4 linked regions of the Homo sapiens genome follow. The protein of the gene in region 2 purifies or fractionates together with the protein of the main gene of each other region. This does not show direct contact. Each region holds a gene or a part of one and is shown on either strand. Other genes may lie near its edges. The genes, in order: RMND5A, ARMC8, MKLN1 and ZMYND19.

Region 1 (6,288 bases), on a different chromosome or scaffold from region 2:
AATACAAAAACAAAAAATTAGCCGGGTGTGGTGGCGGACACCTGTAGTCCCAGTTACTCAGGAGGCTGAGGCAGGAGAAGGGCGTGAACCCGAGAGGCAGAGCTTGCAGGGAGCCGAGATTGTGCCACTGCACTCCAGCCTGGGCGACAGAGCAAGACTCCATCTCAAAAAACAAAAACAAAAAACAAAACAAAACAAAAAAACATAGTGCTAAGTGAATTATCTATACCTGATACATAAATTCCTAGAACTGAAATTGCTGGTTCAAAGGATATATGCATTTGTAATTTATTTTAGTTAGTGAGCTCAGCTTTTTTTTTTTTTGCGATTGAGTCTCACTCCATCATTCAGGCTGGAGTGCAGTGGTGCTGTCTCAGCTCACTGCAACCTCTGCCTCCTGGGTTCAAGCAATTTTCATGCCTCAGCTTCCTGAGTAGCTGGAATTACAGACGCACACCACCACACTTGGCTGATTTTTGTATTTTTAGTAGAGACAGGGTTTCGCCATGTCGCTCAGGCTGTTCTCAAACTCCTGAGCTCAAGCATCCACCCACCTCAGCCTCCCAGGTGTGAGCCACCTTGCCTGGCCAAAATTGTTGATCTTAGTTCAGGCTGTACTGGTTTCATGTGTCACTGTGAGGCATGTGGGCCGTTCTTGGTGTGGGCTTGTAGCTGCCATCAGATTTGCTGCCCTTGAATGGATTGTGTGACCAGTACATTTGAAATTCATTTAAAGACTGTTGCAACCTAAACCTTTGGGAAAGAGAAATTGAATTTATTTTCGAAACCCCAAAAACAATTTCCAGAAAAGTTACCTTTGTTTTGTTTAAGAAACAATTTAGGATCTGGCATGGGTGGTATGTATTTGTGACCCTTCAAATCTTGGCAGTTATATTAAGGGAAAGCATAGTTCATCCTCAAAGCAAAATACAAACAGACTTGTTTTTGTGTGTTCTTATATGTGTGTATAATTGTTAAAGATACTCTATAACTAGATAAAAATTGAATACACAGTACTGAGCCTGCTCCTTCACTCAGTGTTTTCTTCTTTGTCTTTAGATTAAAATGTCCCTACTGTCCAATGGAACAAAGTCCAGGAGATGCCAAACAGATATTTTTCTGAAGAGATAACTTTAGTTTGCAATTTGTAAGTGAAACTGAATCGTGGGTGCATTTCAGAAGAGAACGTTCCATATAATGCAGCTAACCAAGGACTCCTGTGTTTCTATAAGCTAATGCTCCAGAAACTTTGCCAACCTGTTAGTGTACACACACTGAGGGGAGTGCTCCCGGTGAATATTATCATAGGGCTTTATTATATTCTTGGTCTTCATTTCTGATCAAGTAAATACACCAGCAGTTGTCATTCAATGCAGGTTTTTGTACTTAATTATATGGTGATTTTTTTACTTTTTAAGAGCAGAAACGGAAATTGACCTCCCCGCCATGTGTTTAATATTCCTCCTGCTTTTACTTTTGTCATTTTCTTGATAATCGTAAGCCTTGAGAGTGTTTGTGAAAAAGTTTTATTTCCTGTTATGTATACATAATTAAATGAAAATTCTTCAGAAAAAGTTTGATAAATTGAATTGTGGTTATGAAACTAATTTGCATTTTTATTTGCTTAAGAAAGAAAGCTGTGATAGATTCCAGATATGCTTTTTGATGTTTTCCTCTGCTCCAGCTCCAAGAAGTCAGCACACCTGCATTTTAGCTCTGCATGCAGCCCCAGCAGGCTGCGTGTTTAAGAATTTCATTGTTTAACTGGCTGGTGTGAGAAGTCTTCCGTTAGCATAGAGTGGAAGGAGTACTATTGTTTGGTTGGGTTTTTGTTTGTTTGTTTTTTGTTTTTGCTTTTATTGCCAAGAGGTGCTTGTTTTAAAAGTATGTTTAATAAAATGAAATTCTAAAGTTAGAAGTGTTCTTAAGTTGATATTTACTCTCTTGGTCTTGGTAGCCCTATTATATCATTGCAGACACAGTGTTGTGCATGTGTGTATTGTATATGTGCACCAGCATCAAACATTGTGTATCTGGAAGGAAAGCAGCATGTTCCAGTTCTAAAATGCAGTTACCAGACCCATCACTTTAAATCCTTAAAGTTAGAAGCTAGCAAATTTTCTGTAGTGCAGAACGTTTATTGCTGTTTTTGTGTTTGAATAGTATAATGTTTGATGCCTCTCTTCTGCAAAGCGTATCATCTCATTGACTGTGAATCTGTATATTATTCTGATGGATACAGATAATGATCTTTTCTCTTGTGAGGTATCTTCATTTATGCACTGTCCAAAAATAGCCATGTGTAAGAGTCTTTCTGTATGACGAACTACATGGAAAAGACTTCTGTGGACATAATTCTGACCGAAACCCATGAAGTTACTTCAGTATAAGAAGAACGTTACACGGAAATCACCAAATATTTTGCAACTTTATTTCTTCTGACATGGAGTGAACATCAATAGGAATACTTTCAAAGAAAATGAAAACACAGAAGCAAAGAGAAATGTGGCACTTCACATTTTAAACTACAGATGGACTTGGTTTGAGGGAGGGGGAATCACAGATTTGGTGCTAAGTTAATTAGAAACTGGCAGCGTTTTACAGTAGTACACCAGCCTGGATGTTTTTTCTAAAATGTTTACCTGGGAGAGCTGGGGTTTGTTTGTGAGGAGAAAGAGTACTGTGGAAAACCTCTGCTTGAGTACCATGTGGCCAGGCCTATGTGGATGGCTACTCCGTGCTGTGCGGCTTCACCAGCGGTTGGGATTGGCCCAGCTTGGAGTGCTTGTGTGGTCCAACCTCAGTCTGGCCCCATAGCGACTTTTGCCCCATGATTCTGCTTCACTGTTGGAATCCTCTTTGAAGTTCCCCCTCTCTTTGCTAAAGCAGTGAAGGAAGAGAACAGAGACAAACTCTTTGGACTGTGAAAGAGAAGGTAGAGAATTCCAGGCAACAGTCTGACCAAGGGTGTAAACCAGTTTATTATATATATATTTTTCCTTTGAATTAAAACCTAGAGTGTTGTATTTTTCTTTCTTTCTTTTTTTTTTTTTTTTTTTTTACCCTTTTTCTCCTTAGGCCAAGTTTAGCTTATTCTTATCTTTCCACCCAAACACCTACACAACGTTTAGGCTTCCTGTAAGGTTTGAATGAGACAGATGTACTCTGAAGGCTGGTGGTAAATGTGTTTGATGACCAGACTCTTCATACAGTCGGCTTGGGCCACTTTAAAGGACAAAAGCCAGAGCTCAGCTTTATCCCTCTCCCAGTGCTGGGAGCCAAAAAACTGTTGACGGTTTTTTGTGCAGCTCAAGAAAACTTTGAAAAGAACATGCTTTAACTGAAGCATTGGACTCTGCAGCTTTCTGTGTAAGGCCCGTGTACTCCCACTGGGCAGGGTGAGGACCAAAAATCTGAAACTCTTATGAATCTGACATATTATATGGAAATTATATCTTGTGACCGTCTTCAAGTGCATGGACTTAAAATTCATGAGAGACTAAATGTGAGGGAGAGGTGGATTTAAAGAGGCCAGACCTTAACCAAAGATGCTGAGATACAGCATTCTGTCCCCCCTGCCCTAGAAACTCCATAAATGCTGTCACAACCCTATCATCGCTGATGCTTTCTGCATGTCAGCAGTCCAGGAGGATGCTTTTTGTCTCTCTTTGCCTCCACTTTACAAAAGATAATATGATAGAGGCAACGTTTATAACAGTCACATTTAATTATAATGTACATCAAAGGCAGAATTTCAGAATGGTTTCTTAAATTTCCTTGGGAACCGTTTCCACATATCAGTTATAGACAAAGGCCATGGGACTATGCTAAACCAATAAAACCTTATTAGCAAATCTTTAGATTCTGACTTAGCCAGAGCATCTGAGTGTTCAAGTACAGTTTTACAGTGGCTAAGGTTGTCTCTTGATCTTTTTTCTCCGTTGTGTGATCACAGATGCTATTTCTGTTTTATTGGTGATTATACGAGACTTCTAATACATAAATGAACGGGTATTGGTGCCTCTTTATTTTAAAAAATTTGAAGAAAAGAGCCACCTCATATTCATAGGGTGTGTATTTTTTGAGTGTGAGCATTTAATTGAAAATAAGAAAGCTATGAAGTAAATGTTAACTTCTCTGTAGCAGCTAATGCATAGAGACACTAAAACCCACACCACATTTTGTGGGAAATGAGGATCCTGATCCTCTTTTGTCCTCTCCAGGTAGTCTCGCAGGTTATGCAGCTTAAGTTCAGTCTTCTTTATGCTGCGATTGATTTCCACCTCAGTGGCTTAGCCTTTGGGACAGTGGATACTGCAACAGCCAAGAACTCTTGGTTATCCGCACAAGCTGCTGGTAGACTACATTAGCCCTCTGGTTTTCCAGCTCAACCTCTGATAAAGTGGACTGAGAGCCACGCTGCTCAGTCTGTTTCGTCAGCCGACTCAGGTTATTTTCAGGGAAGGCATGGAGGCATAGTTTGGTTAGTTTCATCACTAGGATGTATAAGGTGACGACACAAACCAAATACCTTTCTTTCATCACTTAACTATACGTACTTTATCTCTGGTAACACTAGAATGCTGTGGTCTTGAGGGAATGTTAGCAAGGAACACATAGAAGATTTGGTGTTTCATAAGCCTGTCTAGGTGTGGCAGGTTTTGTGTGGTACACTGATGTTTACCATAAGCAGGTACAAGCTTCATGAACCGTTCTTAATGAACTATAATTGAATAGATACCAAAAATAGAATGACAAATGTATTTTAATAGCAGATGAGGCAGTTTTAGGATGAATTTTCCACTGTTGATTTTACTTCAAGACATAGCAAGAGAAACAAAATTTTGTTTTCAAGACATTTCCACTGCAGTTTCAAGCTGTAGTGGGCATATGCTTCATTTACTTCCAAAGAGGCAAAAGCAGCTGGAATTGGCTTACAGCACATGCTTTGTTTCATGTTATGGGTGAGGACCTACATACACTCTTACTTTAGCAGTCACTTAACCTTCTCCAGCAAGGCAGTTGTGGGGTTCACTAGGATTTAGTGCCTGATCTTTTTTTTGGGAAGGGGCGGGAATGAATGTGTTGGGGCTGGGAGGGAAGCAGAAGAAAATGGGAGTGTGAGTGAGTGTGCATGTGTCTGAAGTTCACCATTGCCCCCACCTGCACCTAGCAAGGAACAGGTGTTTGATGTATTTTGCTCATGACTGCAGTATGCATGTATTTTTTTCCTTCTCTGTGTTTTCTAAACTTACACTAAAGGATTCATCAAATCATCTTGTTCAGATGGCTCAGGATTGTATTTATTTTGCTTACCCCGTGCTCTTGGGTTCTATAGTATTTCTATAATTATGTAACGAGAATAGTGTTGCACTGTAATCTATCATATAGAGCTATATGTATGGAAAATTTTGATCAATTTTTTAAGAAATGTATCCTGTTTGCAAAGGCACAGTAAAGTTGCATCTTATAGACTATAGGCAATAAAGCTAACAATAAACCTTATTTAACACAAACCACATCCATATCCTCTGTTCATTTGATTTTGGAAAAAGTAGCATATCCAGTAGTTTCAGGGAATTCATTTTAACTTTAAGAATTCTGATATATTTAATTTATAAATTTCGGACTGATATAATAGAGTTTTGGAAAACTATAAGAAATGCTTTGTTAATGTGTGTATTCCTATGTAAAACACATGGCTTTTCCTGTGTATATTTTTAAAAATTAAAGAAATGCACATTTAAAAAGTGTTTTGTGGAACCAGTCTGTATAAATGTGCCAGGTGACAAAGGTATGAGGGAGGGAGTAGGGAGGTGCTGACTGTGAGAAGAGAAAATTGCTGTCTGTATTTGCTAAGGGTCTGCATGTCAAGAATTTAAGAAAATATCTGTCCCCATCTTACTGTGTTTCTGTGCCACCAACAGTGAGAAGAGAAGGTGACTGAGCAGTGTCCCGAGTTGTTTTTTGTTGTTGTTTTGAGACAGACTCTCACTCTGTTGCCTGGGCTGGAGTGCAGTAGCCCAATCTCGGCTCACTGCAACCTCCACCTCCTGGGTCCAAGCGATTCTCGTGCCTCAGCCTCCCGGGTAGCTGGGATTACAGGCATGTGCCACCATGCCCAGCTAATTTTTTTTTATTTTTAGTAGACAGTGTTTCACCATGTTGGCCAGGCTGGTCTCGAACTCCTGACCCTCAAGTGATCTGCCCACCTCAGCCTCCCAAAGTGCTGGGATTACAGGCGTGAGCCACTGCACCTGGCTGAGTCCCGAGTTTCTGAGTAGGGGA
Region 2 (7,037 bases):
CTGTATTTGTCAGTTAGTTTTCTTTGACTATTAAATTGACTGAACCTCCGAAAAGCGAATTGTCAAAATCTTCACTCTCAAGATAAGTGATATTATTTGGTTTTCGATTTTTTAATAAAATCTTAAAGGCAAATAATTTTTCATTTAAAGCTTTAAACTCCAAGCAAAAACTTATTTTCTGCTGTCTTATTCCAGTTTAACTTACATGTGTAGAGCTGGAGCAATTCGGACAGATGATAACTGTATTGTATTAAAGGTAAGCTAATTAATTATCTTTAAAATGTGAAAATTATCCAGTTATGTGTTAAATATCAGTATTGATACTCATATTTCATTTTACACATTTATCATTATGATATATGTGCATGGCGTAGAATAATATTGAAAGACCATGCTTTCTTTTCAGTGGATGTCATATAGTTTTTAAAAATTGATTTTAGATGTGTTTCGAAAGTCAGCGTGAAATAATTATTTCATTGTCACAGCCTTTCATTTTATGGTAATTAGGAGGATGTGGAAATTGTAAAAGTGTACAATTCAGGTGAAACAGAAAATATATTTCGTTCTTGATTGTCATTAAATTTGTACTACAGTTTTAGAGGCAGACGATTTGCCACTTTTGCAGAAAAAGACTTTATATCATTCTCATAGCTGATAATCAAAAGGCATAATGAAAGAGAATAAGTAGATAACACATGAAAACAAGCATTGTCATTGTGATATGTCATATACAACTTGAATTTAGAAAAACCTGGAGAAAAGACCAGCCCTAAAAGTCCTAAAACCTGGATTCTGGTTTTAGCACTCCCACCTCTGACTGTACATCCTTTATTCTTTTGATGCCTCGGACTCCAGATTATGAAAATTGAAGCAATAATTCCTGCTCATCTATGCACAGGGTTATTGTGAGGATAACAATATATTAAATACATTAAAATGTCTTATTAGCTATAAAAAATTAAGTATAAGTAAATTGATGATGTGTCATTTTATAAATATGAGATCTCACATTATCATTGTTCAAAAGGTGATCCCAAGGATAAAAGAGCACAAAGAAGACTAATATTTGCTTTAGTCTTTGGGGAAGAGAATTAATTTAATGAGATCTGAACACTCCCTAAGTAAACAACTCTTCATAGAGTGCCACGGACTTCCATAGCATTTATCTTGATTTATTTACTTCTCTAACCTTCCTCTTTTTCTGCATTGGTAAAATGTTAGTAGTATATTCTTCACATAGTAGTCATGAGCATTAGATTACATAATTCATGAATTTATGGTATCAATAAATATTAGTAACTAGTAATGTTAGGGAAAAAAGAATAGGGCCTTCCCCTTGGAAACCTAGGGTTGAATTATAAAGCTTCTACTAGCCTAATAGGAAATTAGTAGTGAACGATGAAGTGCTAAGCTCTGTGGTAAAAGATATAATAGGAACTTATTATATATAAAAGAGCAAAGCACAGTTGCCTGCAGTATTTGAGGAAGACTTTCTATAATGATAACATTTCAATTTATACTTCCACATTGTCCTTTCAAGTGGATCCGTCAGGCTTAGAAATAGTAAATGTCGTTCGAGACCAGCCTGGCCAACCTGGTGAATCCCCATCTCTACTAAAAATAAAAAATTAGCCAGGAGTGGTGGTGGGTGCCTGTAATTCCAGCTACTCAGAAGGCTGAGGCAGGAGAATTGCTTGAATCCAGGAGGCAGAGGTTGCAGTGAGCCGAGATCGTGCCATTGCACTCCAGCCTGGGCGACAGAGCGAGACTCCGTCTCAAAAAAAAAGAAAAAGAAATAGTAAATGTCTGTAATATTTTTATTGAGAACCTAATGTAGATAAGTTACCAAACCATTGCCAAGATTTTTGAGGGACCTCAGAAGTAAAATTGGACTCATGGATACCACTGCTAATTCCAGCAAGTTACTGGGAAAACCTAGCAACTGTGATACATTTCAGTTGCATTATAGTAGAACTGGTGGAATCTGAGTAATGGTAAGATCACTGCAGTTTTAAAGCTGTATTTTGTTTTGGCAACTGTAGGTATGACTCCCCAAACCAAAAAATAAACGATATTACTCACTAAGGAAGAGATAGCATACTTTTCCTAAGGCAAAATCATTCCTGATTAAACTGCTGGGTCTTTTTTAGGTAAATAAATAGATAGATAGGGCAGAACCATCAGACATGATTTGTTAGGGATTCTTAAATGTCTTTTACAAAGTTGTACAATAAAACTTGTCTTATCGGTCCCAAAAGCCTAATTAGAATTTGTATTAATATACTTTGACGTACGAATAGAGTTTAATGTGCCAGTACAAATTATTAATGTGTACTGAATTTTGCTTGTTTTTGCATTTTAAAAAAATCTTTTATTCTCTAGAAGTCAGTAAAGGAAATATATGATCATAAACATTACTCCTGATAAAAGCTATTGAGTTGATTCAGTCACTATATGCTTAAGCTTTTACCTTTACCAAAAAGCAAATAATTAATCTCACTACCTTTCAGACATTACCTTGTTTGGTTCGAATGTGCAGTAAGGAGAGATTACTAGAGGAGAGAGTTGAAGGAGCTGAGACACTTGCCTATCTGATTGAACCAGATGTTGAGCTACAGAGAATCGCTAGCATAACTGATCACCTCATTGCCATGCTTGCTGATTATTTCAAGTATCCCAGCTCAGTGAGTGCCATCACTGATATTAAAAGGGTATGTTATTTTCCTTTTTTAGCAGCTCAAGGGAGATTTTTCTAAAGTTTTTCTTACTGTTCACAGTTTTGAACCAATTGATAACTACAGCTTAAAGCCCTTTTAAATAAAGGTTCTTTTATCTTTGGTAACATAGATAATATTGCTTTGTGAATTTTTGAATCCAAGTTGTTTAATGTTTATTGTCAGAAAGTTTTTACTGAGCAGATAAGCAATAAAGAAAATTGCATCCTAACTCCCCAACTAAACCTCAAAAGTAGTGGATTCTCCAAGCTGGGTATTGACATAACCGTATAATCTTATTCTTGGTCATGGAATCATCTCTGTTGTTACATTCTCATTCTTTAGGTCAGGAGTAATCTTTTTGTTACAGGAGACTAAGTTGTCCCATGTTACTTTCCACCACAGTCTATTTTGTTACCTTTCCCTATCTTCTCTTTTTCCCAGTTTCATACTGTGCTTTGGGCCTGCTAGTGACAGCTAAAGCATCATTTAATCTTGAATTTGGGACCAAAAAGGCCAAATTGTGCTTTTTCTGAAAACCTAAGTTCCTTAGAATAGATCGGTATTTATTTTGACTTGTTGCATCTCAGCCTGTTTGCCCTATCCATTTCTTTAAGCATAGGAGATGAACATTCTGTAAGAGAAAGTTTATTCAAGGAGGTCATGGTAGAGAGAACATTGCCTCTTAATTAGTAGCCAGTACTGTTTCATGAATGTAACTGTATTTTTCATGCCAGTGGTTCCAATGGTAACTATTCTCCTTTTGACCTCTCCCTCATGCTTTTGAGTTTCAAAAAACCTCATTTGGTAGGCAGTTGTTCATTTGGCTTTTAACTTTGAAAATAAAGCAAACTATTAAGGGTATATCTTTACTCTGTCTTAAGAAGGGCCTAAAATAACCTTCACTGGTATTTGTATTAGTAATGTACTCTACTCTCTGGGTATTAAACTTATGTGTCTGCTCTTCTTTCAGTAGTGGTGTTTTTCCAGTAGAAGTGATGGGTTACATACATTTAACCAGTTGCCTTGTCTGTTTTCCTTCTGGTCATTTTTTCACACTGACACTGTATCTTACCAATACAAAGATACATGAGCAACCCTTAGCTACTGCCTCATGAACGCCCTGAGTTGACCACCCCAGGAAGGCAAATAAAATGTTTTGATGGCCATGAGAGTAAGGAAACAATTTTAAGAACATGTAGCCTATGCATATGCAAATCATTTAACTAGTACGTAGATTATCCCTTCTGTTAGTTTTTCCATTTCATTTCCATCAGAGTAAAACTGTAACAACAATAATCCTTAAAAATGACATCGTAATACCAAACTTGAGTAATAGTTTGTTTTGTCATCTTTATTTTTGATGATGGATTATCCAAAGGTTTCTGACCCGAAAAGTATAGACACTAGACCCGTAAAGAGAAATCTTCACATGTTAATAAATTTGTGATTTTCATGATATGTTAGTTCAAGTCAGTATTATATCTTAATTTATGACTAGAATGTAGTTAAGACTTTAAGAGTAGATACTTTTAGAACTTATCAAAGTGAGTATTCTGTATTGGGAAGTTCTTCCTATAATCCATCAGTGTCTGCTTTGAACAGAAGTTTTGGAACTATTAAGAATTGCCTTCAGAGCCACCCCAAATTATATATATATGTAAAATATATATATTGTCTTTTGCTTTCTGTGGAATTTTTTGTTACCTACGTTATATTACCCAACTGAATTTCTCCATCTTCACACACAGTCAGTGACAACTAAAAGTCTCATCATTGATCAAGCTATACCACTGTCAGTGTTTTCTAGCTAATAATACCAGTTAGCTCTTTAGGAAGTTTCAAAAGAGGGTCTCAGAATGTTATGAACAACACCTACATCATTGGATGAGTGAACCTTTCCAAAGTAACTTCTTTGGGAAAAGTGGTATTCATTTGGATGATTACATTAAGGCTTTTAGTTACGAGGTTATTTATATTATTGGTAGACTTTGTATAGTTACTTGGTCATAGTCAGTCATTGAAAGTATCCTGAAAATATGCTTCTGTTTTATCTTTACAGTAGTTTGGTGATCAAGTTTATAGAAGAGTTGATAATTAGTTATGCATGTTTAAAGATACCATTAATTGCTTCATGCTGATAATTTTGATAATGTTCTTGAAAAAACCCATACCCAACATAAATCTCAGATAACTGTAATAGATAATAATGGTTACCATAGTATACGGTTTGTTAAGCATTTTCACAATGGGTTCTCTGTTTCTAAAAGCTTTTTATTTTATTTATTTTTATTTATTTATTTATTTTTGAGATGTAGTCTCGCTCTGTTGCCCAGGCTAGAGTGCAGTGGCGCGATCTCGGCTCACTACAACCTCTGCCTCCTGGGTTCACACCATTCTCCCGCCTCAGCCTCCCAAGTAGCTGGGACTACAGGCGCCTGCCACCACGCCCAGCTCATTTTTTTGTATTTTTAGTAGAGACAGGGTTTTATCGTGTTAGCCAGGATGGTCTAGATCTCCTGACCTCATGATCCATCTGCCTCGGCCTCCCAAAGTGCTGGGATTACAGGCGTGAGCCACCGCGCCCGGCCTCTAAAAGCTTTTTAAATGCCAAAATTAGGCCAGCACTACTCTTAATGTTTCAGAAAATTAAGGGAACCCTCCTAAAGACATTGTTGCGATTTCATTCAGGTTATCAGCTGTAGTCTGGGGCTAGAGAAGTCCAGGTGTGCCTTCTTTTGAAGGAGAACATTTCAAAGAGCTGCTGCAAGCAAGCATTAGTGCCAGTAAAGCTACCATTTAGGAACACTGAATTTTTCGGAGTCAGAGATTCACAATGGTTTTTCATATATCAGTGTCAAATATAGTGTTCACTTTTAAATGGAAGCATATTGTGTGCATTTTAGGTCACATTGATACGAACACTGCAAAGTCTCAGTGCTATGTGAACAGAATCCAAAAATAACTGGGAAATGTAGTTAATGACTGGGAAATTCACTAAAATCTAAAAGTTGTAAACTTTTTTTTTCTTCAACTCAGTTAATGTTATTGAAAGTTGAATTTATGGACTGAGTTGGAACATATCCTTTTTTTCCCCATAGCTTGATCATGATTTAAAACATGCTCACGAACTCCGCCAGGCTGCATTCAAGCTCTATGCCTCTCTTGGAGCAAATGATGAAGACATCCGGAAGAAGGTGAGTCTGGGAGAGGGGCGTCCCCCAGTCCTGACAGCCAGCAGGCAGGGAGTGACGTCAACCTGAAAGTCGTGGTGAAGAGCACTAACAGTGACTGTTTGAATATAATAAAGCAGAGTGACTAAAGGCATAATTGAAGAATGAATGGGACCCGGATTTGGGGGGTTGTTTGTTTGTTTTTAGAACATAGAGTGGCATGGCCGTGCTGGAATGACAAATAACTGGCGTGCTTTTTTTTTGTGTCATTAATATGAATTATTATGTTGCACATTTTTGCATGTGTTCTGATAAAAATCAATTCTAGCACTGTGAAGCTTCAGACACCTTGAAAGTCCTAACATTAGAATTGTAAATGTTATTTATGGAAATACCTTCCAATGCTATTGAGAAATTCAAATCTCTATTGTATATTGTTCTTTGATATGTGGCTTAGTTTTATGTTTTGATTTTTTTTGCTACTGTGCAAGTTTAATGTGAATAAAATCTTTGTGGAATGATGATTTTATGTTTAGTGAGTGGTCATCTGAATTTTCCAGCTCCCCAGAAAATGTATGCACTGGTATAGCACCCTTATGTTACTAAAGCCTAGTCTAACACTGAACTCATGTTCTTGATGAGAATACTTCTAGATGAGGAGTATAGTGGTAAGTAAGCTCTGACTTGGCTCCTTCCACAAACCAAAAAGCTGGAACTTACCACTCAAAAACATGTATAACCTAATAAATTCTACACAAGGCTTTCAAGACCATCAGAGAGCAAAACCACATGTTCTGTCTTGAGGAGCCATAGCAGAAAGAGCAAATTAGTCATTATTTACTGAACATGATGATTTACTAAATCTCTCCATCTGCATTAGTATTTTAAGGAGCACTGTGAGAGAAATCACAAAGTATTAGAGTTTACCATGATTCAGAGAAGTTCTTCAGGCCTGTAGAAAGAGGAGTATGGAACAACCTTACATTTGTTGAAATAACTTGAAAAGGAACCATTTCTTGAAGAAACTGAAGTAATAGCAATAAGATTTGATGTGTGAGTAGCTTTGATTTAAAATCAATGCAAAAAGCACAACTAATAAATTGAATGTTTCCATGTACCTCACTTTATTTCAGTTAACAAGATACTTTGA
Region 3 (5,294 bases), on a different chromosome or scaffold from region 2:
TTCCTAGATTTTCTGTGGCATTCTGTAGGACATTGTATTGCTTGGAAAAAAAAAGATCAAAATCATTCTGGGGCAAATGCTCTATTATCCTTATTTATGACAAGAGAATAATGAAATTCATAAGAAATTAATAACATTCAGATATTGCTATAAATGTACTTGAGTCATTTTCATTTGGGGATAGTAATAATGGCTGTGGCAGCTTTAATGGAGAAACCTGTGTTGGCCTCTTTTTCTGGCATTAGGATCTCTTGTCATAGAACTATTGGTAAAGTACAGGTTTGATAGCAGAGTTCCTGAATTCAGCATATCATCAGAATTTCCATTTACCTTTTGTCTTTTCTTTTTATTGTATTTTTTAACCTTTTTGTTTCTATTCCTACCTCCCATGAGTAACATTGATTTCTGCTGAAGTTAGAATTTGTGTTAAGAATTGACTTTAAACTTCTGAAATAGTTGAATATTAGAAGTGGCTTCAGTTGCCATGAAATGATTGCTTTTCTTTTTCTTTTTTTTTCCTTAAATAAAAATAATGCAGCCTTATATATGTCTCTTCCCCTCAAGAATGTGAATTTAGGCTGGGCATAGTGACTCACGCCTGTAATCCCAGACCTTTGGGAGGCTGACACGGGAAGATTGCTTGAGCCCAGGAATTTCAGACCAGCCTGGGCAACACAGGAAGACTCCATCTCTACTTAAAATATTTTTGTTTTTTAGCCAGGTGTGGTGGTATGTGCCTGTAGTCCCAGCTACTTGGGAGGCTGAGGTGGGAGGATCACTTGAACCCAGGAGTTTGGGGTGCAGTGAGCTATGATTGCGACACTGCACTCCAGCCTGGGCAACAGAGCAAGACCCTGTCTCAAAAAAAAAAAAAAAAAAAGAATGTGAATTTAGCTCCAATTCCAAATGACTAACTCTTAGGCCAGTCATAGCCAATGAAATCATCTGACGGTAGCTTCTGTAGCCCTTAACCTAAGGAGTCATTAGAGGTTATAGTAAATTAGTTTCTCTAGTGGTGCAGAGAGAAATGCCATCGGGGAAATTATCACTGTCTTTTTGGCTAAAGTTTTATATTGTGAACTGGATCCCACTTAACAGCTTAAAAACACAAAAATGAAAGGGTAGTCCTAGTTTATCTTCTTAATTAGAATCATTATTTGGAAATAAGATTTGCAATGTGCTGTCTATCCCCAAACACTGCTGAGCTTGCTGGAAAACAGAATTTAACATGAATGTTGTCTGAAAGCTGTAGGATCAATGGCAAAAAAGGGGAAATGTTTGGTAGGGAATTGGACCAGTTCTAAGGTATCACTTTTAATTATAAAATAATGTCTTCCTTTTTATCTGCTTTTCAGACAGCCTCAGTGAACTATTAAACATTTGTGTGCAAAGTCCTATTTTGCTTATCTAAGGCATTTTGACTTGGAAGTATTAAACTTCAGGAACGAGCTAGAGAAGACAATGAGGGTATGTTAGAGAAGGAAAAATAGGAGCTTTTTGCTTATGGATTTTAGAGGTCCACAAATCGAAAGGAAAAATAAATTTCTTCATTTCTAACCCTAAAATAATTTTGTTAATGAGATGCTGGGAAGAAGACTACCAAAAGGCCTCAAAGCTCATGCTTCTAGAATATTCAGTAATTCTGAATAGTCTTTGGGAAGTAGCATTTCTTGGGAAGTAGCATTTCCCTTCTTCCAAATAACTGTTTGAGATCTTAAAACAGAAAATCCAGTGTTAATGGGCTCTAGATCTTAAACTAGGTGAGCAGCTTCTTACATACAACCAGTTCCTTGTTAAGGATCCAGCAGGAAAACCAGCCATAAAACATTTCAACATGCAGTTTGGGGGCTCCCTTGCTTATTCACTGAGTTTAAGCTCTTGCTGCAACATAGCTCTGTACCATCTGGGATGCTAGCAGTCACAGCAGTTAGCTCAGATATCTGAGCTGTCTGCCACACAAAGCCTGAGGAGATCATCATTCTTCAGTTTCATTCATTACTTAATGAATGCCAAATTAATTGGCAGGAAGAAGAAACACTGTGTGATATACTGAACAAGCCTGTGTGCATGAATAAGGAGCCACTCAAAAAGCCAATTTTGAGCTTTATTTCTCCGTTGTTAACAAATCTCAAGAAAGCCTTTGTTACAGTTTAGCTCATGTCATTTGGTTGGTTTTATTTTCTAGCCCTTTAACATAGGAGGAAAATTGTCATTTCATGTATAACTTGTAACACAGAATTGAACTGATACTAGTTTCCTTGCCTTAAATTAATTATATGTCATCCCAAGGGTCTCTGTTAATTCTGCTTTGCCAAGCAATAATGAGATCTGGGTTTGGCATTAGAAGTATTTCATAATTTTGGTTTTTTATTTAGGTTTCCTCCACATCTGTAAAGTGATTGATTAAATTAGAGGAGGCGTGTAGAATAAATCCCAATCCCATTGCAACTGGCAGAGCTTTATAAATCTTTATAAATTCAGTTACAACAAAGGAGAGGATCCTACACCATTAGAGCCATGCCATCAGGTGTTTGCAAGTGACAGCTGTAGTGTGTTGCCTCAAATAATACCAAGTTATAAATAATACCAAGTAATTATCAACTCACTCCCAAATTTAATAAGATATCAAAGTCCAAAAGGTTACTTAGGAGTAGTCTTCCGTGGGGGAAGATAAATTTATTAAAGAGTCATGTACTGATCTTTTTCTTGGGATTTTTTTTCCTTTCCCAGAAAAAAAAATTATTTTGGTGACTGATCAATTGTAAACAATTTTCTTCCTTACTTACAAATCATCCGTTCAGAAAAATAAAAGTGGACTTCCTTTCCTAAGCATTACAATTAGCCTGGGCAAGAGGTGTTATGATTGTCTTATTCTTTAAGCCGGCTTACTTTTTGGATTTGTGTGAAATGTCTTTTGAAAAGAAAGTAGATAGTATAGTATTAATTAACTACTTTGTATAGTCTTCTGCATAATTTAGAGTTGAAAATAATGTAACATTTTCCTGTGAACAGATTCCTTTATGCGTACATACTTTATAAATATACATACATACACATACACATACATTTTTAAAATGCTCTTTTTAAAGAGATTCTTATCTTGCTCCCACTCCAAAAGCTATGTACAGTTGAGTTATTAGCCTCAGAGGAAGAGTACAGGAAAGCGAAGATGAGGACCTCCTTTTCTTGTGTTGGTCTTGGGAACAAACAGTATTCCGTCTTTCAAATATGGCATATTTCTAAACAGTTTGGGAAAGATGTTAGAATTTTTTAAAAGTCAGCTCTTTTATAAATTGGAAGTACTCAGTAGTCAGAAATTAAGATCCCCTCTGATAGAGATAGATTCTCAAAACCAAAATTGGACTGAAAATTAGATTGAGAAGAAAGATACAACTTCCTCCATAGCCAATAAAATCTGTCTTTCCAAGTCTGCTTATTAATGCTGTGAATCGCTCCTTCTGTTTGTGAAAACATCTCCTGGACTGGAAATGTGGTGCTGTAACCAGCTGAGCCGAAAGTTGGAGAATGTTAAATATCTTATATGGGACTTACGATAAAATGTATTGATGTTAGTGATTGTCAAAATAGGTTTATCATTTAAAAAACTAGGAAATTACTAAGTATAAAGAAGAAAAACCAGTATTAATTAAGTGATGAGACCTGTTCATTTTGTTTTCCCTGACTTATTTCCATTACCAAACATAGTAAAGGCCAGAAAAGATTAAAAAAAAAATTAACACAGCCATTCCATTGTTTTTTACCACATGGAGAAAGGACCAGGCTGGAAGCATATGTCCCCCCACCCTTATTTATATTCCTTTGAGCATTGCCGTTTTCTAGACAGACAATCCGAAAATAATTGTGTTGATAGGTCTGTTTAAGCCTGAACTCTGGGTGTAAAATGTTATCCAGAAGCTATAGGGAGCTGCCTTGCTCAGGTCATTGGAAATTTCAACCCTAAGACTCATTGGAATTTCTAAGTCCGTTATGCACCATTATGGGCATATGGAGCATATTCATACCATGAGGAGGAGTCTTTGTTTATGATGGACTTTTTAATATGGCCATAATTAAACTCACACTCAAAAAGGATGAGCTATTGTCAAAAGCCAAAAGAAAAACAGACAAAATGAACATGAAGCAAGGAGTCCATAAAACAAGAGTTCTTTACCACGTTTAAGCAAATGTCTCTCAAAAAAAATTGTATTTCTGTGCACATTAGCTGAGATTCACACATTTTGCACCTCAGTAGTATTTCAGATGAGACTCAATGTGTGGAGAAAACCGCTAACTTGTTTGGTTCTACTCTTACCCCCTCTTCTGTGGCAATGTGGGGTCAGGGCCGTATCCTAAAGTATCCACATGGTCTTAAATGGAAATCATGGGACTCTGGAAAGCTGGCATGAGCTGGTTGGAGCTTTTAAACAGAAGTGCTTTATGGGTATCAGATCTCTTCTGACATCAATTGTTTCAAATCATTGTTGGGCTCTGTCGTGTTCTGCAATCTTCCCCATTCCCCTCATGATCTCTGGCTTATCTTTTATCCAATCTGTATGGACTTTTTAGGATTTTTTTTTTCTTATAGTACAAATAATTTTCAGATCCCAGCTTTGGTAAATGTGTTAATTCTACTTTGTGAATAAATAAATGAGTGATCTGCTAAAAATGGCAATTGTAGAATTATGTTGTATGTAATGTACATATGGAGAAAGAATGTATTTTGTTCATTTTCTTAATAAAATGTTATATATGGATGCTACAAGATATCTCTTGTATTTGCTCAAACTACTTTTGAAGTGAACTTTTAAAATGTTTTTGTACTTTACAGTTGTGTTTTTTCCCCCAGAAAGGTGAGTTTTATTTAGGCTTCCAAAAGGAAAGTGATACGCTTTCGAAGGGCCTTTGGGTGTTTTCCTTTGAGACGGTGCTCAGATGAACAAGTACCGGCCATGCTCACAAAGTTTCTGCGGGGAGGCTTCCACTTATTTAAAGACCACTGGTAAATTATTTCATGAAATGTTCTTCTATCTACTGTTAATGACCACCCTTATTTTATTTGCTTTGTCCACTTGGACTTATGTTCCTCTTTAAAGGGGATATGCTTGTACAGGCTGGAACTAGAAGGAAAGACTGAACTGAAATGGAAAATTCACTGTAGAAAAGATAGTAAAGGGAGAGAACCTAGAAGTGTTGCAGTTTGGGAAAATTCTGGATCCCTGTCCCCATTAAAGGGGAAAGACACTTTATGGGCCAAATCTTGAAAAAACTAAGCTGAGAAATATGCCAGATAAAAG
Region 4 (5,969 bases), on a different chromosome or scaffold from region 2:
TGTATGTTGCACTTCAAACACCAAGTGGACTTTCTGCTGGGAGCTTGCCCAGGACCGGCAGCCTCTGGAGGGACGGTGGTTGCTCCCCTTGCTGGGTTTTGCCGAGCCCCCCCGGTGTGCATGGTAGGGACCACTCAGATGGGGAGCTGTCTCGAGGCCATCTGCTTAGGTGGTTTTGCGTTCCAGCTTTGGCTGTCTGTGCTCTGAAGTCCAGGGGCCGGGTCCTCCCTGTGTCCCTGTCCTGTTTGGGCCACAGATCAGGTGCTTGGGTTTCTCTCAGCAGCTTCCGCCTGAGGTACCCTCATCCAAAGGACCAGGGGCCCGATCAGATCACATGGCTGACATTTCTTCCTGGAAGGACTTTGGTACCTGACCAGAAATGTCTGTGAGGGTGGGAGGCAGCGATGCAGGGTTAGATGCAGGGTTTGCTGTCTGTTTCTAGGGAGCGGCACCGGGGGGGCGTGGCCCCGGGCTTCCAGGTGGTGCACCTCAACGCTGTGACCGTGGACAATCGCCTGGACAACCTGCAACTGGTGCCGTGGGGCTGGCGGCCCAAGGCTGAAGAGACCTCCAGCAAGCAGAGGTGGGTCTTCTCAGGGCCTGGCGATGCCAGCAGAGGCGCCTTTTGAGGAGGGCCACCGCCAAAGCTCTTGTTTCCAAGAGGGTCTCCTGTTCCTCCTCTGAGCCCTGATGCTTCTGTGTATTTTGGGAATTTCATTGTTTTTCCCCAAAGCGTGGAATCCTCCTTTTCTTCATGGGAGCGGGAAGGATCTTGATGGTGTGTGTTTTTGCATTGCTCCTCTTATAATTGGCTCTGGGAACCTCCCTTTAGCTGGCATGACAGTGGGGAGAAGGGCTGCCTGCTCCAGGGCAGGGCCAGCGTCGGGACTCGGTGTGAGCAGGGCTTCTGCCCCACACCCCTGGGAGGCATCAGCCTTCTCTCCTCACCTCAGGATTCCTTCCTTCTCTGCTCACCTCAGGATTCCTTCCTTCTCTCACCTCAGGATTCCTTCCTTCTCTCACCTCAGGATTCCTTCCTTCTCTCACCTCGGGATTCCTTCCTTCTCTCACCTCGGGATTCCTTCCTTCTCTCCTCACCTCGGGATTCCTTCCTTCTCTGCTCACGTCAGGATTCCTTCCTTCTCTCCTCACCTCAGGATTCCTTCCTTCTCTGCTCACCTCAGGATTCCTTCCTTCTCTGCTCACCTCAGGATTCCTTCCTTCTCTGCTCACCTCAGGATTCCTTCCTTCTCTGCTCACCTCAGGATTCCTTCCTTCTCTCCTCACCTCAGGATTCTTTTCTGTGCACACAGATGGGTCTTTTTGTTGTGTTCTTTTGCTAAACAGTTTTCCTTAAGCAAAGGTTTAAAGCGGAGAATGGTTCAGGGCTCAGCCCTCGGCCCCCGACCTGCCTGTGATCCTGAAAGCAGTGCTTTGCATGGGCTTCCCACCTGGGAGGGCGGTTCCTGCTGGCCCTAGAACCAGCCAGTCTGTGAACTTCATGGAGCCCTTGGGAAGAGCCAAGGGACCAGCAGGATAGGGGTTGGGAGCCCAGTTGAGCCAGGGAGTCCCCAGCCACACACGCTTCACTGACATGTTCCCCTGGCGCCCTGGGGCTTTTGGGCACGTCCTCAAGCCTCTGGGCAGCCTTTCCTGGTGCAGGCAGTGCGAACTGCCCTAGCAGATGGTTGTCAGCAACGCTGGTAAGGTTTAGTGTTTCGGGCTTGGTGATGGTTGGTGGCTGTGGGTAGAATCTTTGCAGTTGTCACCTCAGAGTCATGCCAGAGCCCTGGGCAGCCGAGGTGGAAACAGTGGGAGCACCTGACACACTGGTTGGTGATGTGGGGACAGTCCCCAGGCCTCCAAAATGCCACTCCCAAACTGCTGTTCCTGCCACCCTGGAGGGAGTCCTACAAATCCCCCCCCATCCCTTCCTCACTGGGCCTCTCAGGACGAAGGCAGAGCCTGAAGTGTCTTTCGTTCTTGTTGGGCTGGTGTTTTTTTTTCCCTGCTCTGTTTATTTCATTAAATTAATTAATTTTACGGATGGGTCTCACTATGTTGCCCAGGCTGTTCTTGAACTCCTGGCTTCAGGGAATCCTCTTGCCTCAGCATTTTTTTTTTTTTTTTTTTTTGAGACGGAGTCTGGCTCTGTTGCCTAGGCTGGAGTAGCGCGACCTTGGCTCGCTGTAGCTTCTGCCTGCCCAGTTCAAGCAATTCTGCCCCAGTCTTCCTAGTAGCTGGGGTTACAGGTGCCCACCACCACGCCTGGCTAATTTTTGTATTTTTAGTAGAGGTGGGATTTTGCCATGTTGGCCAGGCTGGTCTTGAACTCCTGACCTCAGGTGATCCGCCTGCCTCAGCCTCCCAAAGTGCTGGGATTACAGGCGTGAGCCACCACGCCTGGCCCCGCTTCAGCCTCTTGAGTAGCTGGGATTACGGGTGTGCACCACCACGCCCGGTCCTTGCTCTAATATTAGAGTTTTGACCTTCCTCATACTGCTTGTGAGTGAAGCCAGGCCTCTTACGATTGTTGAATGGGGTTTTTATTCTTTCGGGGATTATGTTAGTTGGAACTTTGGGTTGCAAGAAACAGAAACAAAGGTCAATTTGGCTGAAACAAAAATAGGGTACATTTTGGTATCCTGACTGAAATGTGGAGAGCCAGGGATGCTGCTGCCTCCAGCTCTGCGCCCCCACTCCCGGCTCCTCTCTGGGAGGCGGCATGGGCACTACCTAGCACTTGCGGACTGAAGCAGGCACCCTGTTCTAGTGGTGTCTGGGGAAGCCCTGGGATGAACTGTAGTTAGCTTGCTTAGAATCACTTTTCTACATGAAAAGGGAAGGGGAAGGGGAAGGCGTGCTTGGCAGGCAGAGCAGCATCTGTAGCATCTCCTCCTGCGTTGTCCCACATTGATACATGCTCAGTGTTGATGCTGGGATGGGCCCTTCCCAACTCCGCAAGTTCGCCCGCTGCTCACCACTCCACCTGGCAATGCCTTCTGTCCCTGCCATGGTGCGGGTCATTTCAGCCGGTTCTCAACAAGACTCAGGGTCCGGCCAGCCTGTGACTGAATGTTACCTTGAATCCTCTCAGCACCCTTTATAATCAGGAGAGGAGATAACTGCCGTTAAGAACAGCCGTTTGGAAAGGGGGTGTTGGGCTGATGCTCCTGGTCAGCCCATTCTCTGTGGGCACGGCAGGATGCCCATTCTCTGAGGGCACAGCAGGACGAGTTGCGCTGGGGCTGCTGCCTTACACAACCCCCTGCTACAGGAGGTGGGCCTGGGGTGGCTCAGGACTGATCAGGCTCAGCCATCTTTGGTTTGCCAACATGGGGTTTTAGAACCCAGCAGGTGTTGGGCCTCTTGTGCTGGGTCAGCACCCCAGGCCCCGAGCAGAAGTCAGAGCTGGCCAGTGTGGGCCTGACATCCTGTCTGGCTGGGTGCTGTGTGTCCGTCTGGATCCTGGTCTGTGGCCTCCTGTGATCCAGCTCTTTGTGGTGGGGTCACCCTGTCTTTGTTGACTGGCTGGGTGCTGTGCGTCCGTCTGGATCCCAGTCTGTGGCCTCCCTGTGGTCCGGCTCTTTGTGGTGGGGTCACCCTGTCTTTGTCAGGCCTGGGCTATTGCTTTGCTTTCCTGGCACTGTGTCAGCTCAGCCCCCACAAAAGGGGCCTCTTGGCAAAGGGGTGTTTTCCTGTTCTGTCTTCAGAAGCCAGCAGTGTCTGAAACTTGCCTCTGTCTGGTGGGACCTCACCAACATCTTCCCATGTCCTGATCCTTCCCCGTTTTAACCAAGTCTCCTCAGGGTCTGGCTTCGGAGAACGGGGTTGGTGGGGTGGTTTATGCAGCTTCTTTACTCCGTGATGCAGCAGGGCTGGGGCTGCCCACGCTTGCCTCTGAGCAGCCAGTGCACATGCCTTTGAGGCTCCGTTCTTGGTAGAACTCTCCCGTTGTAGGCATCTGGCCTACTCAAGCAGGAGGAGTTTTTAGACGGACGTAGGGCAGCTCCCGGTATGGAAGGGGAAGTGGACCGACGGGGCAGTAATGGGCACCTCTGCAGGTCAAGGGCAAGGAGAGGGGCCGCCTCGCTTTGCACAGGGGCCTGACCTGGGCCCTGTCTCCTGCCTACTGTGTGCCTGTCAGTCCCAGGTGCTGGGGAGAGGGTGATAGATGAGGCCATGCTTACGGGTTAGTGGGAAGATGAGACACAATATTTACTGTCAGGTGGTGAAAAGCACATGCAGCAGGGATGGGCCAAAGGAGACTCAAACTCGGGCTGGGTGTCCTGGGCAGGATGGCACTCTATGGAGTCATTGCATCGTCTGCTGTGTGCTGGCCCCGTTTGGCCAGAGTGCACTCAAGTGTCTGCTTCTTTCTTTAAGGGAGCAAAGCTTGTATTGGCTTGCAATTCAGCAGCTGCCTACAGACCCTATAGAAGAACAGTTTCCTGTCCTAAATGTGACCCGGTATTATAATGCCAACGGGGATGTAGTGGAAGAGGAGGAGAACTCTTGCACCTACTATGAGTGCCACTACCCTCCCTGCACAGTGATTGAGAAGCAGGTGGGTGTGCTGCAGTGCGGTCGCGTCCCTGGCACCTCTACCCTGTAGCCCAGCCTTGGTTTGGGATCTTGCCCTCCACCGCGGGGTCCCATTCCCCAGAGACCGCTTAGCACCTCTTGGGCTTTTCCACCAGAGTGGTCTCCCTTTGCCCTTGTGCTGGCCTGACCAGGGCCCAGGCCCTCCAGCCTTGGTACGTGGTGTTTTGCTGGGTCCGTCAGATTGTCCGTAAGACGCAGCCTTTGCCCCACACTGCGTCCCAGGCATGATGGTGAAGCCACAGGTGTTCTGTATTTCAGCTCCGGGAGTTCAACATCTGTGGGCGCTGCCAGGTGGCCCGGTACTGCGGCTCCCAGTGCCAGCAGAAGGACTGGCCTGCCCACAAGAAGCACTGTCGGGAGAGGAAGCGTCCCTTCCAGCATGAGCTTGAGCCAGAGCGATGACGGGCAGGGGAGCCACACATACTCACAGCCCCCGGGCTCTACCCTGGGCACAGCAGAGACAGACTGGTGGTTGAACCTGGAGGTGCCAAAAAAGCCAGCTGCGGGCCCAGGACAGCTGCCGTGAGACTCCCGATGTCACAGGCAGTCTGTGTGGTTACAGCGCCCCTCAGTGTTCATCTCCAGCAGAGACAACGGAGGAGGCTCCCACCAGGACGGTTCTCATTATTTATATGTTAATATGTTTGTAAACTCATGTACAGTTTTTTTTGGGGGGGAGGCAATGGGAAGGGTAGAAATTACAAATAGAATCATTTGCTGTAATCCTTAAATGGCAAACGGTCAGGCCACGTGACTAAAAACTGTCCTGTTGTCGAAGCTTCTCCCCTGGGCCGCCGGGAGCCCCGTGGAGCGCGGCCTGCACGGGAGTTGTGTCCACAAAGGCAAAGTAAAGGGGTGGAATCATCTGGCCTCTCGGACATTCTCTGCTCCGCCTCCCTCTTGTGCTGCTTAGGGTGAGGTCATTTTGAGTGGAGCCGAGTCCTTGTGGGTGAGGCAGGAGGACCCTTGTTCCTGGTGGGCCCTTCTGAGGAGCGGGTGAGCTCAGACCTTCCTGAGTCCAGCAGGGAGTATGAGTGAGACTCTGTCCTTGTCTTGCGGCAGGAGTGGTGGGGTTGCTAAGTCAGCTGCCCGCTGTTTTATGGGGAGTAGGATGCTCTCGCCCCTGACATTGGTTAGTTCTTGCCTGATTTATGCATGAAGTGGCTGGGAGCTCAGCAGTGAGCTTCTGCCCAGAAGAATCCACAGGGCATGTTCAGCAGGCCTGCTGCAGATGGTGGAGGGGGCTGGCCAGCCAGGGTGAGGTGAGGGTCTCACTTCTCCGTCCGTCTGCAGGGCTGTGGTTTCCAGGATAGCCCTCCCTCTCCTTGGGGAGCCCCAGGTGTCTGGGGCTGGTCAGCATCTTG

Evidence for each region.
Region 1: the proteins of ARMC8 (region 2) and RMND5A purify together in Homo sapiens (affinity purification with mass spectrometry; 7 studies listed by BioGRID and IntAct, with this or other methods). This does not show direct contact.
Region 3: the proteins of ARMC8 (region 2) and MKLN1 purify together in Homo sapiens (affinity purification with mass spectrometry; 4 studies listed by BioGRID and IntAct, with this or other methods). This does not show direct contact.
Region 4: the proteins of ARMC8 (region 2) and ZMYND19 purify together in Homo sapiens (affinity purification with mass spectrometry; 4 studies listed by BioGRID and IntAct, with this or other methods). This does not show direct contact.

What each region holds. Positions count from the first base shown.
Region 1 is NC_000002.12:86,772,289-86,778,576, forward strand, and holds the end of RMND5A (E3 ubiquitin-protein transferase RMND5A), read left to right. Parts: intron 1-1,059; coding exon 1,060-1,123; 3' UTR 1,124-5,753; downstream 5,754-6,288.
Region 2 is NC_000003.12:138,239,273-138,246,309, forward strand, and holds part of ARMC8 (armadillo repeat-containing protein 8), read left to right. Parts: intron 1-195; coding exon 196-256; intron 257-2,510; coding exon 2,511-2,711; intron 2,712-5,815; coding exon 5,816-5,911; coding exon of another isoform or gene 5,912-5,977; exon of another isoform or gene 5,978-7,037. UniProt on the Homo sapiens protein: Component of the CTLH E3 ubiquitin-protein ligase complex that selectively accepts ubiquitin from UBE2H and mediates ubiquitination and subsequent proteasomal degradation of the transcription factor HBP1.
Region 3 is NC_000007.14:131,491,874-131,497,167, forward strand, and holds the end of MKLN1 (muskelin), read left to right. Parts: 3' UTR 1-4,759; downstream 4,760-5,294. UniProt on the Homo sapiens protein: Component of the CTLH E3 ubiquitin-protein ligase complex that selectively accepts ubiquitin from UBE2H and mediates ubiquitination and subsequent proteasomal degradation of the transcription factor HBP1.
Region 4 is NC_000009.12:137,581,581-137,587,549, reverse strand, and holds the end of ZMYND19 (zinc finger MYND domain-containing protein 19), read left to right. Parts: intron 1-442; coding exon 443-583; intron 584-4,386; coding exon 4,387-4,567; intron 4,568-4,863; coding exon 4,864-5,007; 3' UTR 5,008-5,469; downstream 5,470-5,969. UniProt on the Homo sapiens protein: May be involved as a regulatory molecule in GPR24/MCH-R1 signaling.